Linked DNA regions of Homo sapiens: regions 2 and 3 are each linked to region 1. Evidence: fine-mapped expression QTL. A gene starts in region 1. Each other region holds a variant in brackets. All regions are shown on one strand. Distances are from middle to middle. Region 1 holds the start of PRDX6 (peroxiredoxin 6). Region 2 overlaps SLC9C2 (solute carrier family 9 member C2 (putative)). Region 3 overlaps SLC9C2 (solute carrier family 9 member C2 (putative)).

The links. PIP is the estimated chance that this variant, and not a neighbour inherited with it, causes the effect.
Region 2: its variant is fine-mapped to the expression of PRDX6 in whole blood (TOPMed, PIP above 0.99).
Region 3: its variant is fine-mapped to the expression of PRDX6 in whole blood (INTERVAL, PIP above 0.99).

What each region holds. Positions count from the first base shown.
Region 1 is chr1:173,476,091-173,478,852 of GRCh38, forward strand. PRDX6 (peroxiredoxin 6) reads left to right here and starts at 1,245. Exons shown (of 5, transcript NM_004905.3): 1 at 1,245-1,402. The coding sequence starts at 1,308. LOC100506023 (a long non-coding RNA gene) reads right to left here and starts at 1,065. Exons shown (of 3, transcript NR_037845.1): 1 at 542-1,065. RefSeq lists enhancers at 250-786, 1,284-1,443 and a silencer at 1,044-1,213.
Region 2 is chr1:173,508,153-173,510,914 of GRCh38, forward strand. It overlaps SLC9C2 (solute carrier family 9 member C2 (putative)), which reads right to left. Exons shown (of 28, transcript NM_178527.4): 24 at 1,416-1,547. Among named protein-coding and RNA genes, the nearest start is that of PRDX6, 32 kb to the left of the region's middle. The variant T/C (reference allele first, on the strand shown) is at 1,357.
Region 3 is chr1:173,504,141-173,506,902 of GRCh38, forward strand. It overlaps SLC9C2 (solute carrier family 9 member C2 (putative)), which reads right to left. Exons shown (of 28, transcript NM_178527.4): 25 at 2,716-2,762; 26 at 1,107-1,191. Among named protein-coding and RNA genes, the nearest start is that of PRDX6, 28 kb to the left of the region's middle. RefSeq lists an enhancer at 670-1,869. The variant T/C (reference allele first, on the strand shown) is at 1,150.

The DNA of each region.
Region 1 (2,762 bases):
TGTTTCTCCACTGTATGGCCTGGCACAGTGTCCAGCACACAGCAGGCAAAGCAAGAGTTACTGCATGAGCCAGTGTCATCATCCAAACGATAGCTACCATTTCCAGAGCACCTACCGTGAGCTGACTAGTTTACCTACATTATCCTGGTGGCTTTCCCAGACCAGACCACCCAAACCAAAGCAGCCCCCCAGTCACCCTCTAGGCACATAACCCTATTTTAGTTCTCTGAATACGACTGATTGCTGTCTAACATATTTTGGTTTGTGTGCTTATTGTCTGTCACCGGTTTCCCTTCACAAGAAGGAAAGCTCCAAGAGGACAGGCATCTTATCTACCTTGTACTTGGCTCATAGCAAATAAATGAATCTAAGCCGCCCACCTCCCTGGGTGACAGAGTTGACCTGCACACAGTAGGTCTCAAAGAGTATGTTTTAAATTTTATATTTAGATTTCAAGATAATTGTGTTGAATATTTTATGGTTCATAACAAACAGAAAGGGGAGGGCAGAATAAAAATAAATAAAAGTTTAGTTACATTACCCTAGCACTGACATTGGTACGGGAATTTTTGCTGCAATAAGAAAGCCACTTCCTCTGACATAAGGTCACCCATACTTCTGGGTCTTGCCACATCCTCTTAGACAGTTCATCGTAGCTGGGCTGGCTGGGGCGGTCAGGACTCCAGACGCTCACACTAAAAGAGGGGTGGTAGTCGAGCAGTCACTCCACTCCTCTGTAGGGAGCTGGCCGCGAGTGGGTGCGCAGCAGGGTGCGCGCGGACCCGTGCAGCGCCCAGGGCGGCTGTGCGAAGCCGCCGCAGCCTGCGCGCCCAGGCGATTCTCCACCTTGGGGCTCGCCTTCCTGCCGCGTTCCTCTTCCTTCCATCCCTAAAGCGCGTACGCCCTGCAGAGTCAAACCTGGCGCATCCTCAAGCTTCCAGGGGGCAACGTGACCGAGCCCCGCATCACGTGTGCAGAGACGGCCTATAGTGTCTGAAGGATGCCACCTAGTCGCAGGCCCGGCGGCGCCACCAACAGCGACCGCGGTAGTCCAGCTCGCGCCGCGTCCCGGCCCCAGCCCGGCCCGGCCCAGCCCCGCCCCGCGCCCAGCCCCGCCCCGCCCCGCGCCCAGCCCAGCCCCCGCGGCCCGGCCCCCAGCGGCCGGCCTCCCGCGGCCCCGCCCCCGCCGCCCCAGTCCCCGCCCCTCGCGCCTTCGTTTATTCCTCCGCGCGCTGGGACAGGCTGCTTCTTCGCCAGAACCAACCGGTTGCTTGCTGTCCCAGCGGCGCCCCCTCATCACCGTCGCCATGCCCGGAGGTCTGCTTCTCGGGGACGTGGCTCCCAACTTTGAGGCCAATACCACCGTCGGCCGCATCCGTTTCCACGACTTTCTGGGAGACTCGTAAGTGGCCACCGCGTAGCCCTGTCCTGGCCTCGGTTGCGCCGGACTCGGAGGTGCCTTCCCTGTTTCTTCTCCCTGCCGTCCTCCCGGCCGCTCAGCCCCCTGCGCCGCCCTCGCCTTCCCCCGCACTGGTTCCGGCGCGCGCCAGGCCGTGTGGCCTCTGCTCAGCGTCGGCTGCGCTGCTGGGAGCTGGCACCCGTTCGGCCTGCCCTGCGCGGGCCACTCGATCCCTCCTGGCCTCCCCGCCTCCGGCGTGGCTGGGCAAGGCCACGCCAAGGTGGGGGGTGGGGAGGATAAAATTGTGTTCTGCGGGTTCTGGAAACTCACCGCCCGCGGGAGGGTTTGTTGTCCATTTAACTCGTCTTAGTAAACTGTGCAGGTAGCGTGGTCAGGCCGAGGGCGCAGGGGCGGGGCGGCATTGACGATCACTTCCCCGGACTAGTGCCCAGGGTCGCACCGCCCTCCCACCCTCCGTTCTGGAATTTGCTCCCTGGGGAGGATGGGTGTCTAAAGCCAAAGTCGGAGGACACAGCTGCTGGCTATAGGTTACAGGAAGGCCAACGTATCATCTGAGGGTGCAGTGGTATTTGCAGGCTTCTGGGCACAAAATGTGAAATTTAAAACCACTAGCTGCCAAGTAGGTGGCCGAAAGACTTTTTGTCCAGAGCCGCCTCCAATGGCCAAGATATGATTTGATAACAGCTTTAGGAAGAGCCAAGAACACTCTGCGTAGGTGTGCCTTCAGAGATTCCAGAACTTGCAACACTTGGAGGGAAGGACTTTCTGACGCTGTTCCGCTGGAGTGGCCTATTCTTGCTAGTGATGGCCGTTCCAGGCTCCAGGACACGTGTACTCCCCAACTTTGAGACTCTCTTGTTTTCCAGTGGCTTGCCCCTCACTGTCCCCTCCGCTTTCTACCTTGCTTCTAGCACATGAGCTTGCTGATGATAGCCAAATTGATGACCTGTGATCTGACTTGGCAGTTTTACCATTATGGATAGGAGTAGTAAATCGGTGTTGCCCTTTTTTTTTTTTAACAGCTCCTGAATCAGCAAACTGGAAGTTGCTTAGTTTTCATCAGAAGCATTCCAGGCATGTCTAGTTATATTATGGTTCTGGAGTACTAGTGGTCCCACTACACTGTGGGGCTCCAAGGCTTGACAACAGTTCTTCCCCAGATTATATCCTTTTTATATACAGTATCCAGGGAGACAGGCTTATGAAATTAATCAGTGATTGGACAGGGCTGTGCAGAGAACCAGGGACAGATTCTTACACATCATATGCCTATCCAACCCTTTATAACCTCTTAAGTCCCTTTTCCAGCCACTGAATAGGGAAAAGTTAAGCTTTGTGAAAG
Region 2 (2,762 bases), 32 kb after region 1:
ACAACCAGAAAATCTAAAAAAAAATCAGCTGTTTTGGTTTGATTTTAAAATGCATATACATTTTGAGTTCTGTGATTTAGAGGGAAAAAAATCTTAATTGGCTAGTTCTTTAATGGAAAAAAAAAGAAAGAAACTAAGTATTAAATAGAGATTCTCTATTTAATAATAAATACAATTTTTTTAATGTTTTATATCTGTACTTTCTCATTTATATAATGAATATGTGTTGCTTGTGAATTTAAAAAAATTTAAAGGACATTCATCTTATTATTGAGTCAAGTCTGAGTCCATACAGTTTCTACCCATTGGTCCTAATTCTCACCCCTGAAGTTTCATACTAGACTCTAAATTTGTCCCACTTCTCATGAAGATGCAAGGTAAAAGGAAAAGAGAAGAATTCCAATCCCCTTATCCCTCTGCTAAAATTTTTCTGAAAGTTATTATTGCAATAAAGTAAAAGAAACCTGACTGGCTTGTATGACACACTCATTTTTTAACCCAATATTTATTTATACCCAGTCGCTCAGTTCAGTGAATATTACTGAACTTCCAATCTTTCCCAGTTCACTTCCCCAGTTCCTGACTCACTAGCTAGTAAGGGTTCCAATAGTTACTAAATAGGATACAAATGTGAGATTGTAAATTGTGCTTGTCCAGAGAAAACTTGAACCACTACTCTTTGGAGGGGAAGTCCATGAGAGAGGCTCAGTCACCTCCACAAAGATTTTGAAAAGGCAGGAGATTTACAGACTTATATTAACATCGGCAGAGTAGGCAATAATAAATACAGACAGAGCGTTTGTTAACACATTCTGATTAACACTATGCTTGGTTCAGGGGGGGATCTACCTATTTTGAATTTGCTAAATCTACCTTCTTTTTTTTTTTAGAAATGATTGCAAGTAGCTTGGGAAAATTAGCTGTGACAAAAGGATTGACAACCTGTAGGAACTCAGGATAAGAGAGCAGTTAAAATTCTAGCAATCTCATTTTAGAAAAGCAGACACAGGGCCAGGCACAGTGGCTCACGCCTATAATCCCAGCACTTTGGGAGGCCGAGGTGAGTAGATCACTTGAGGTCAGGAGTTCAACACCAGCCTGGCCAACATGGTGAAATCCTGTCTCTACTAATAATAAAAAAAATTAGCCAGAGGTGGGGGCAGGCGCCTATAATCCCAGTTACTTGGGAGGCTGAGGCAGGAGAATTGCTTCAACCTGGGAGACAGAGGTTGTAGTGAGCTGAGACTGCACCATTGCACTCCAGCCTGGGCAACAGAGTGAGCCTCTGTCTCAAAAAAAAAAAAAATCAAACACAAATTTCCTTTCTATTTTTGTCTCAAAAATATGAAATGCATT[T/C]TGTAAAAAATACAATGCATAAAAATTCAATTTATTAATATTTTAATCACATAACTTACCTCATCAATAAGACTTGATTCAAAATACTGATAGGCAGTACTGAGAGCAAGCTTTAGCCATATTTTATATTCCAGAGATGGCCAGAAGGCATCAAAGCCTTCATATAAATCCTCCAGGGAGATAAAGCAGGCCTGAAACAAAAAGGAACCAGGCCATAGCAGCTTGATGTGGAACTAAATTACAAGACCATCAAAAAACAAGATGCCTGCAGATTTAACCTTCAGAAAAACTATCAATTCTAGCATAATTATGATACTCTTGTCATTTAGAAGCATTTGTATTGTGAAAATGGTTGTTTGCTAAGTATAAGATGATAAAATGTATGGTGTGATTAAAGCTATAGACTTTAATAAGAGACCAGAAAAATGTATATCAGTCAATAGATATAATGAAGGATATGGCTCATGAGCCCAAAGTCCAGGATTCAGGAACTAAGCCATATGAACTTATCTATTTTTATTGTCATGGTAGATAACATGAGCTCATTCACAGTATTTGTTTCCAGAGGCAAATAGTTTAGCTGAATAAAAAAGATACACTTTCAGATTCAAGTTACACGAACTTCAGTGAATTCAATTCAGCCTTATGACTAAACTCATGCCTTCTCTCCTCTTCCAAAAATGAAATGACATGAAATAGCTAAAACAACATTTCCTTCCACTCCACACACCCCTAAGACTCTGGATCCTGCTCTTTTGCATCATATAGTCTCCAAAGATTGAGAATTCTTTGGCTCATTTCTTTTTTTGTTTAATTATTTCATTGTACTTTAAGTTCCAGGATACAAGTACAGAATGCGTAGGTTTGTTACTTAGGTCTACGTGTGCCATGGTGGTTTGCTGTACCTATCAACATGTCATCTAAGTTTTAAGCCCCCCATGCATTAGCTATTTATTCTAATGCTCTCATTCCTCTCACCCCCTCAATCCCCAAACGGCCCTGGTGTGTGATGTTCCCCTCCCTGTGTCCATGTGTTCTCATTGTTCAACTCCCACTTATGAGTGAGAACATGCAGTGTTTGGTTTTCTGTTCCTGTGTAAGTTTGCTGAGGATGGCGGCTTCCAATTTCATCTATGTCCCTGCAAAGGACATGTTCTCATTCCTTTTTATGGCTGCACAGTATTCCATGGTGTGTATGTACCACATTTTCTTTATCCAGTCTATCATTGATGGGCATTTAAGTTGGTTCCATGTCTTTGCTCTTGTGAATAGTGTGGCAATAAACATACATGTGCATGTGTCTTTATAGTAGAATGATTTATATTCCTTTGGGTATTTACCCAGTAATGGGATTGCTGGGTCAAATGGTATTTCTGGTTCTAGGTCCTTGAGGAATCATCACACTG
Region 3 (2,762 bases), 28 kb after region 1:
GTCATCTCAGTGCTAGCCAACTTGGAAAGGTGACCCAGGAGCAGAGGGGGCTCCCTAAATCACAGTGCTGCATATGACCCTAGAAGAGGGTGAGCCACAGGAACCTCTGAGGTTCAAATTGCTGCCAAGGGAAAAGCTTAATTACTTATTGAATATCTGTCTCTCCTCCCTATGAAGGCAAACACCTTATCTGGCTCACTCACCAATTGGCACTTGGCACAGTACCCAGCACACAGCGGGGCTGCATTTTATAAAAAGCAAGCAATTGAGAAACAGTGAGATATAAGACTGAGAAAACGTCACTCTTCGCACACAATTTGAAATCGTGCAAATCCTCCCCCCAAAGCAACAATCCATTAAGAATTGCATAATAGCTAAACTGATGGATCACATGAATTGTAAACACTGGGATGGTGCAAGTTAGAGTTACAAAGCTAGAGTGTGTCCTCAAGCTGGGGCAGCTGGGAGAATTTTGTCATTGGGCTTGGGAGGGCAGGGATGCTGAGCACAAGATGGAAGATCTTGTGTGTGTTTTTTCTAGAGCAAGCTCTTCCTATCAAGTCTTCTCTGTATAATGCTTAGCACCATGATGCATGCAGTTGGATGCTAATAAATGTAACTATAGCTACTCAGTGACTATCAAGGCATACTCAAGGCAAGTCATTTGACTTGTAGCTGTGACCATGGAATACTCACTGACTATGGGTAAGGTTTCCTATTCCCTTCAGTTGCTGGGAGCAAACCAGTTCCCCATACCTGGGCTCCTGTGAAAGAGTCTGTTCCCTCCCCATTCTTGCACTGCCAGCACCATGTGGCTGCAGCCTACCAGGGCAGCAACAGAGTGCATTGCAGAAGCTGCTCTCCCCTGACTAGTGTATGGAGGGAGGGACATGGCAGAGGAAGGAGCCACCTGGATTTTAGGGTCTGGAAGTCTCTCATATGTGACCTCCCAGGGCAATGTGGCAGCCAGGGTGGGCCCAAGGATGGGGACTAATGATAAACCCACATAGTGCCCTCTCAAATCACTTTCTTAGAGTTAAAGGAATTTTACATGTATTGAAGTTCCTTCTCAATAGTTTTCCTACCACTAAAGGTCTACCCCTTACCCATGACATTGGTGTTACTATTTCTTTGGGTAAGCTCAGATGC[T/C]TGGATTATCAGCAGCTTGCTTAAATCAGAAGTTCCCTGAACCTAGAGGAGAAAAGTCAAAATTAGTCAAAAGAGCATTCTTTGATCTCTAACCTGGCTGCTTCCTAATCTTTCCAAAGAGTATAAAAAATAAGCCAAAGCCTAAAGCTGGGTCTTCAATCTTGGCTCTATATTCTAAATTTCAAATCCTCTTTGATGTTGAGAAGTCTTAGACCAACAAATTGTCCTTGCATATTTAGACACCAGAGAGGAAATTTCTACACCTTACTCATAACTAGGCTGGAAATTCCCAGTTTGGAAAGCAGGGAATCCCCAGCATCCAGTAAGCTACTTTTACTCCTACACTGATGCTCAAGGGCTCAAGGCTCAGCATTCCCAGGATGGCAAGACTGTCTTCCTTTCTTAGACCATTTGTCCCATGTGCCATAAAATCTGCCTCCCAGAATGCCAGCATCAAACAAGTAATCATTATAACTATCATTTTTAGATTACCACATATTATCTCATTTAATCCTCCCAATAACCCGATAAGATGGCTGCTGACCTTATCCCTATCTTACCATGAAGGAAATTGAGGGTCAGAAAGGTTAAGCAACTTACCTAAGCTCAAGTACAAGTAGGCACAGGGATCAAGTTTTAAGCCTAAGTGTGCCTGACTCCAAACCCTGGTCTCTTAAGAAACTAAGCTGCAGTATTACTCCTGTTGCTTCCTTGCTTCTTGCCTCCATCCTTTGTTTCAAAGCTAAACAAGATTTTAATTTTCTATTAAAAACATGTAAATTACCTTCATCATCTGAATTGATGAAAGGTACAAAATAAGAATGTTTTGAAAGAAGAAAATTCATTTTTTAGGTTTACCAACTTTTCCAGGACAAATTTTCATAATGACTTTTCACAGCCTGAACTGGGAGAAAAGGTCTCTCCCATAAGGTAGAAACTTACTGCCAGATTTAAAGAGATGTCAGTCAGCTCTTCCCATGGCCTCTGGGTCCTCCCCATTCCTTTGCCCAGTGGCAGGCAGCTTGGGCCATTAGGGACTTTGCTTCTATCCTTCCCATGCCCTCTTATGTCCTAGGTGGTCACACTTCCTTTGTCTTTACAGAGGTATGGAATGCTGAGGCCCAGGGCCCAGGATCTACTATCAAGTGCCCATAGCCCCTAATGTGTCAACAAAGTGATGTGGCCCCTACTCTACTCCTTTTTTGTCAACCAGTGCAGATACTTCCAGAGCTATGCTAGAACACGGCATCGTTGCCTTGGCGTAAACTAGGGAAAACTTACAGCATCTCATCCTTCCTTTGGCACAGCCCCACGCCAGGGCAAAGGGCGTGGCAAGCAAACAGCAGGCAGATTTCAGCTCCCTGTCCCTTGGGCACACCCTTGTGTAGGGCACCTGTATTACAGTACACAGAAGCCCTAGGTACATTTTTACTGTTTGTAAAAGGCAAGTAAGAACTACAGGGTCATTCCAGGTTAAATTTCTTTTTAAGGTGATCAGTTGAGTTTTAAAGTCACTTTTGGAGCACCGTGAAGAGCAAGAGACTCTTTAGAAATGATATTTCTTACCTGCTCACAGGTTGTAGGTATAATGCAAGGTGCAAAATATGGTTCCT